2 linked regions of the Homo sapiens genome follow. The protein of the gene in region 1 purifies or fractionates together with the protein of each later gene. This does not show direct contact. Each region holds a gene or a part of one and is shown on either strand. Other genes may lie near its edges. The genes, in order: IRAK4 and TLR4.

Region 1 (3,829 bases):
CACCACCATGCCTGGCTAATTTTTTGTATTTTTAGTAGAAACAGGGTTTCACCATGTTGCCCAGGCTGGGTCTTCAATTCTTAATAAGGTTTTAAGATAAGATAGTAAAATGAGAGCACATGTTATTACAAAGTAGATTAATTTAAATAATTAAAATATATATTCTATTTTCTTTCACTATGATTTGAAGCTCTTAAAGTTTTAACACTCATTTTAAAGCTAGATATTAAAGAAGAAATTGAAGATGAAGAAAAGACAATTGAAGATTATATTGATAAAAAGATGAATGATGCTGATTCCACTTCAGTTGAAGCTATGTACTCTGTTGCTAGTCAATGTCTGCATGAAAAGAAAAATAAGAGACCAGACATTAAGAAGGTATGCATTTTTTATACTTATTTAAAAAGTGAAAGGGGTGGGGTTCATCATATTTTCCAGAGTGTATATTTTAAAGCAACTGTATAATGTGGTTCTTTTGTTTTTTTCTTTCTTTTTAAAAGGTTCAACAGCTGCTGCAAGAGATGACAGCTTCTTAAAACTTTATTGGAAAAGACTCTTGACTTTTTATATACACCTATCTCAACCATTTTTTTAACTGATTTTTTTCCTAAATATTCTTCTTTACCTTTAACAAGGCATAGGCTGTTGCAGGACAGTGGTTATTAAAGCATGGGTTGAACTTCCAAAATATAAAAATAGAGCCACCATATCAACACTTAGCCCTACCCATTAGTATCACCCCCAGTTCTTACAGTAATCCCTGAGAAATCTCCTTCAAGCATCACCAAACACAGTTTGAAAATTACAGGGTTAGCAAAAAGAGCCTGGGCTGTATGTAGGGTGGAAACACTCTGATCTGAAGCCCAGCTGACTCCACTACTAATTTGCTGTAAAGCTTTGGACATACACTTAGCTGCTGTGAGCCACTAATAACATTGGGCTAATATCTGCTGTGCTTCTCTGACAGGTAGTCATGAAAATCAAATGATGCAAAATATATACAAGCACTTTGTAAATTGTAAAATGATACAAAATTTAAAGTTTATAGAGCCAGTTACAAAATCCTATTAGTCATATATTTATAGATTGTGTTCACAGCAATCATTTAACCACAAATAAAATATCCCTTGATGATACTGCCATAATGATATGTCCATTATTAGATTATGTTACATGACAAAGTTGAAGGAATTTGGCAGATGCAGTTAAGGTTCCTAAACAACTCACTTTGAGACTGTTGAAAGGGCCTGACCTAATCAAGTGAACCCTTGCAAGAAGAATTCTCCTTGTAAGCCTTGAAGAAGTATGTGAGAGGGCCACATTGGCTAAAACCTAAAGGTGGCCTCTAGGAGATGAGACCTACCTTCCAGTTGTCAGCAAGCAGGAAAAAAAAATTGGGACCTCAGTTGCAACCACAAGGAACTGAATTCTGCCAAAAATCTGAGTCAGCTTAGAAGAGTACTCCAAGCTTCAGATGATAACCACAGCCTGGGCTGACACCTGGATTTCAGCTTTGCATGATCCTCAGTATGAGAATCTATCTGTTCTGTGCTGGACTTCTAATATATAGAACTGTGAGATAATGGGTCACATTGGCTGGATGTGGTGGCTCATACCTGTAAATCCCAGCACTTTGGGAGGCCGAGGCAGGCAGATCACCTGAGGTCAAGAGTTCAAGACCGGCCTGGCCAACATGGTGAAACCCCGTCTCTACTAAAAATACAAAAATTAGACGAGCGTGGTGGTGGACACCTGTAGTCCCAGCTACTTGGGAGGCTGAGGCAGGAGACTAGCTGGAACCAGGGAGGTAGAGGTTGCAGTGAGCTGAGATCGTGCCACTGCACTCCAGCCTGGGTGACAGAGTGAGACTCCATCATAAATAAATAAATAAATAAATGGGTCACATTAAGCCTTTAAGTTTGTGGTAATTTATTATTCAGTAATAGAAAACAAATACAGATACTCTCCCATGATGTTTTTCCCATGATGATTTCCCATGATATTTACAGGTTTTGCCCACATTTGAGGGGTATGTGGAAATTATACAGAGCATGTACAGCGGGAGGCTTATAGTGTACGTACTGAAATGTGGGGTTGGAGCCCCAACACAGAGACCCCAGCAGGACACTGCCTAGTAGAGCTATGGGAAGGGTGCTGCCACCCTCCAGACTTGAGAATTGTAGAGCCACCAGCAGCTTGCACTCTGAGCTTGGAAAAGCCACAGGCACTCAACTTCAACCATGAGGGAAGCCACGCACCCTGCAAAGCCACAGGAGTGGAGCTGCCCACGGCCTCGAGGGCCCACCCCTTGCACCAGTGTGCCAGGATGTGGGACATGGAATCAAGGAATATGTTAGGGCTTTTTTTTTTTTTTTTTTGAGACGGAGTCTTGCTCTGTTGCCCAGGCTGGAGTGCAGTGGCACGATCTCGGCTCACTGCAAGCTCTGCCTCCCAGGTTCACGCCATTCCCCTGCCTCAGCCTCCCCAGTAGCTGGGACTACAGGTGCCCGCCACCATGCCCAGCTAATTTTTTTTGTATTTTTAGTAGAGATGGGGTTTCACTGTGTTAGCCAGGATGGTCTTGATCTCCTGACCTCGTGATCACCCGCCTCGGCCTCCCAAAGTGCCAGTATTTAAAGTTTAATGTCTTCCCAGCTGGGTTTCAGACTTGCCAGGATCCTGTTGCCCCTTTCTTTAGCCAATTTCTCCCTTTTGGGACAAGAATGTTTTACTTATTGCCTGTACCACCAACTGTATCTTGGAAATAAATAACTTATATTTTATTTCAGAGGCTCATAGGCGGCAGGAACTTACCTTGAGTCTCAAATGAGACTTAGGACTTTTGAGTGATGCTAGAATGAGTTAAGACTTTGGGAAGGGATGATTATATTTTGCAATGTGAGAAAGACATTAGATTTGGGGGGCTGGGGGTAGAATGACATTGTTTAGATGTTTGTCTCCTTCAAATTTCATGTTTAAATGTAATCCCCAGTGTTGGGGGTGGAGGTGGGGCCTGATGGGAAGTGTTTGGGTCATGGTGGATGATCCCTCATGAATGGCTTAGAGCCACTGGTGATGAGTGAGTTCTCACTCAGTTCGTGTGAGATCTGGTGGCTTAAAAGAGTCTGCTCCCCCTTTGCCTTCCATTGTGATTGTAACCTTCCTGGGGCCTTCATCAAAGGCCAGGCAAATATTGGTGCCGTGCTAGTATGGCCTGCAGAACCGTAAGCCAAAACAAACCTTTTTTCTTTATAAATTACCCAGCCTCAGTTATTCCTTTATAGTGATGCAAAACGGGCTAACTATATAAATTTGTAATTTTTAAGTTATAGATTGTTTTTATTAAACACTTATGAATACTGTTTGAAGTGCTTTAATTTTTATAACAATCCTATGAATTTGGTAATAATCACATTTTACAGATGAGGAAATTACCCAAGATTATATAGCTAATAAGTTGCGTGGCAGAAATTAGCATCTGGTATCAGTTTGCGATCTTTACCACTAACACGATGTCTGTGCATCATATTAATCATAATCATTTTCTCTGTCATATGTTGAAAGTTATTGTGCCAAACATTGTGCTGAGTTTTAGAAGCATGATCTGATTTGATAAATCTACAATGTAGGTTCTATTCTTTTACTTCTTGAGGAAATTTTGAGACCCCCAATGATTAAATAACTTCTTTCCCTTGTTCATTGTATTAGACTGCAATTCTCCACTCATTATATTTGATGCCTTTTGCAATATGGCTTTGTAATTTTTCCCATCAGGAAGTAAAGTCTATTTCCTCAACCATTAAATCTGGGCTGGCCTTGTAACTTGCTT
Region 2 (3,829 bases), on another chromosome or scaffold:
GCATTGCTCTATACATTAGGTGAGAAGGAAAGGGTCTTGCTGTGTCTCTATATCATTACATTGGTGATAATCACTTTAGAGAAGTAGAGTATTAAGACAAAGAAAACATTTAAGTTGGATTCTGGAGATGTGAACTTAAATCTCTGGTCTGTGGCTAACAAGCAATGATAATGTATATAAGTCATTTAAATTATTCAAGCTTCAGTTTCCTCACCTATAAAAAGAAATATATATATATTTCTATAGGGGAAAGAAGGCTGCCTGGTCTATCACAAAGCATTCTTACAAGACTAGTTGAGTTACTGTATGTGAACACTGTACGAAAAGGCAAAGGATGTCTATTGTGCTATCTTTTGTGCTTGCCCTAATTCAGAATCTCCTATGGGTTAACAAGAAGGGAAGCTGGCCTCTCTGTAAGCACAGATTTAAGGTTTCTGGGGCAAGTTTATTGGGTATCCAGTGGATTGAAGATGAATTACATAAGAGACATTGTTTGGTGAAAAACTACTTCTTGTTTGAAAAAAAAAAAAAGGGAGAGGTGGTCTACCTTAATAGAGTACTTGACAAAATTTTCATGCAGGAAACTGAAATTTAGAACATAATGGCATAGATGCAGCTAGTAGCCATTATCCTAAGCAAATTAACAAAGGAACAGAAAGCCAAATACCATGAGTTCTCACTTTATAAGTAGGATCCAAACATGGAGTACACATGGACATAAAGATGACAAAAATAGACCCTGGGGATTACTAGAGAGGGGATAGAGAGAAAGCAGCAAGGGTTGAAAAACTAACTATTGGGTACTATGCTCACTACCTGAGTGATGGTATCGATTGTACCCTACACCTCAGCATTACGCAATATAACCATGTAAATCCCTGAATCAAAAATAAAAGTTGAAATTATTTTAAAAACCTAATGAAATTCTGTAAGAATACTTTATGCTTATAAAATATATTTTATAAAAATTTAAATATATACAGCATATTAATATTTATTATCACATTTAATCCAGCAGAATAAGTTTCATCATTTCCATTGATCAGATATGAAAACTAAGATTAAGGGAGATGAAGTAATATGCCTAAGGTTACATGGTTATAAAGGTTGGGGGTAAACTTGGCTCAGGTCTTCTGACCCCAACAGGACTCTATGCACTATACCACTGCCTTTGAATTGTTCCATTACTCCTTTGTTACATCCTATCTATATCCAAATTAGAGTATAATAGGTCGTATGCTCACTCTTCTACAGAAATGTCTGCTCTAAAAAGGATTTTTATACTGTGACCTTAGTCTTTATCAATAATTTCTATAATAAAAAATATGTAAAATGTTTTGAAATGTTTTACAAACCATTGCAGAGAACATGATCCATTATCTAGTTCGATTTGCAAATAAGGCCCCGATGATGAAAACCCTTTTAGAATTTGGTTCCCCTAAAATATCAAGATGACATTTCACCTGCCACAACAAACGATATACTTCCCTGCATCAGAAAAGAAAATCTTAGCCATTATTCCCTGCCCACAGCAGATGTTTTCCTTTAATCTTGACATCTTTCTCCTTGGGTTACTTGTCTTTTCCTAATTCCCTATCCTGTACACTAGTTTTAATATTCTAGACATTGTTTGAATCTTATGCAGTTCATGAAATCTTTCTTGACTACCCACCACAGAGAAGGCCCCTCTTCTGAAAAATACAATTAGTTACCTTTAGTTTAAACATAATTTATCACCTACTGTTATATGTCGCTATCTTTATATCAGTTTCCAGATCCAAAAAATCATAATTAAAATGTGTTGACTATATACTATGTACCCAGGACCATACCCAGGACTTTAAGGTATTAACTCTTTCAAGAAGATATGCCTCCTTAACAACAGGGGCTGTGTGTTATATATCAATATATGCCTGTCTTCTTGCAGAGTGTACAACATATAGCAAGTAGTCAATAAATAGCTGCTTATGAAAGAATTTAAGCTAATTTTCTCTCCTGTCTTAAAAGAAAACCTAAAATTAGAATTGCCCTTAGAAGCTGTCTCAGCCAACTGCCTACTTCACAGATTAGAAAACTGAGACCTGGAGAATAGAGGTAGCTTGCTCAAGGTTATATAGTTAATAAGACATCTGTTGTATGAATGAATAAGTGAATGAAGATGAGACTCCACAAACCAAGCTTTCCAGTCCAATAATGAAATGACAGGACAATGAACACCTCACCTTGTGCAGTATGTAAAAGTGGATTCATTACCTGGATAAATCCAGCACCTGCAGTTCTGGGAAACTGAAGAAGCTATAGCTGCCTAAATGCCTCAGGGGATTAAAGCTCAGGTCCAGGTTCTTGGTTGAGAAGGGGAGGTTGTCGGGGATTTTGTAGAAATTCAGCTCCATGCATTGATAAGTAATATTAGGAACCACCTGCAATGATTACACATGACATGAAGTATCTTTACTGCATGGTCTCCCAACTCCCCTCTCCTAGACCAGAGATGGTGGAGAGGGGCCTCTTTTTGTGCAAGCACAAAATTCAGTCAACCTTTCATCCATCTGTCCATCCTTCCATCCATATATCCATCCATCCATTCACTCAATTCATGCTTATAAATTGTCTTACTCTAGATTAGAAAGTAAAGAGCACCTACTACGTGCTCAGCATTCTAACCTCCGTGATAAAACGGCAGCATTTAGCAAGAAGCAATGGAATCGGGGTGAAGGGCTGAGGCTCCGGAGTCTGAAAGCTCTGGGTTTCATGCCAGCTCTTCTGTGTGGTTTAGGGCCAAGTCTTTAAAAACAAAACAAAATAAAACGAACAAAAGAAAAACCTCAGTGAGCCTCATTTTATCATATGTAAAATGTAGGTAATAAAATATCCAATATCGTGCTTGCTGCAGTAGCACATACACTAAAATTGGAAGGATACAGAGAAGATGAGCATGGCCCCTGCACAAGGATGACACACAAATCCATGATGCGTTCCATATTTTCATGATCTATGCAGCAAATCACCATGGCACACATTTACTTATGTAATAAACCTGCATGCTCTGCACATGTGCCTCTGAACTTAAAAGTTGAAAATACAAAAAATAAATAAAATATCCAGTATCATTTTAAATACTCCATATCATTGGGGAGACTGTCTGGCAGTCAAGATGTCCAGACCTTCCTTAGTCATGGCCCAGATTTTGACAACTGCATTCTTTTTCTTGGCTCATTGACCCTTGAGCAAAGTGATGTAGAAATAGGGGGAAATCTTTAGAGTGCATGGATTCCCATGGTGGAACCTAGTAAATAAGGTCAAGTGCTTTATGCTGTCTTTGTTTTTACACTGCTTTCTAGCCTACTTTCCCACATTCTTTGTAAGCCTAATTCTCTAACGCTCCCATCTAATTTCTGAATGCTCTCATTTCCTCCAACAAAATTCCTTGCAGAAGCCAGCTAATTGTAGTTTTCTGTTGTTTGAAACCAATAGAATGTTTGAAGGATTAAATGAGATAAGGTGTTTAAAGAGTTTATTTAAAAGCCCGCTACAGTATAAGTGATCAATAGATGTCAACATTAATTATTATCATCTATCATTAATCCCTTACCATATGCCTGCATAGTTCTTGTTTGTTATATACTTTCACTTAATCTTCAAATAAGCATTTAAAGATGAGGAAAATGGAAATTCAAAGAAATGAAGTAATATGCGCAAAGTCAGAGTTCAAACATGCAGATCTTCATTCGTATGTCTGCTTAAATGTTGCAAGCCATGGAGCCTCAAAGACAATATTGTCTAATAGAAACAGTGCCAGGCACTCTTTCTTTGCCCTCTTTTATTCCCT

Evidence for each region.
Region 2: the proteins of IRAK4 (region 1) and TLR4 purify together in Homo sapiens (affinity purification with western blotting; 2 studies listed by BioGRID and IntAct, with this or other methods). This does not show direct contact.

Annotation. Positions count from the first base shown.
Region 1 is NC_000012.12:43,786,180-43,790,008, forward strand, and holds the end of IRAK4 (interleukin-1 receptor-associated kinase 4), read left to right. Parts: intron 1-219; coding exon 220-378; intron 379-500; coding exon 501-536; 3' UTR 537-3,362; downstream 3,363-3,829.
Region 2 is NC_000009.12:117,707,154-117,710,982, reverse strand, and holds part of TLR4 (toll-like receptor 4 isoform A precursor), read right to left. Parts: intron 2,785-3,829; exon of another isoform or gene 2,665-2,784; intron 2,421-2,664; coding exon 2,254-2,420; intron 1-2,253.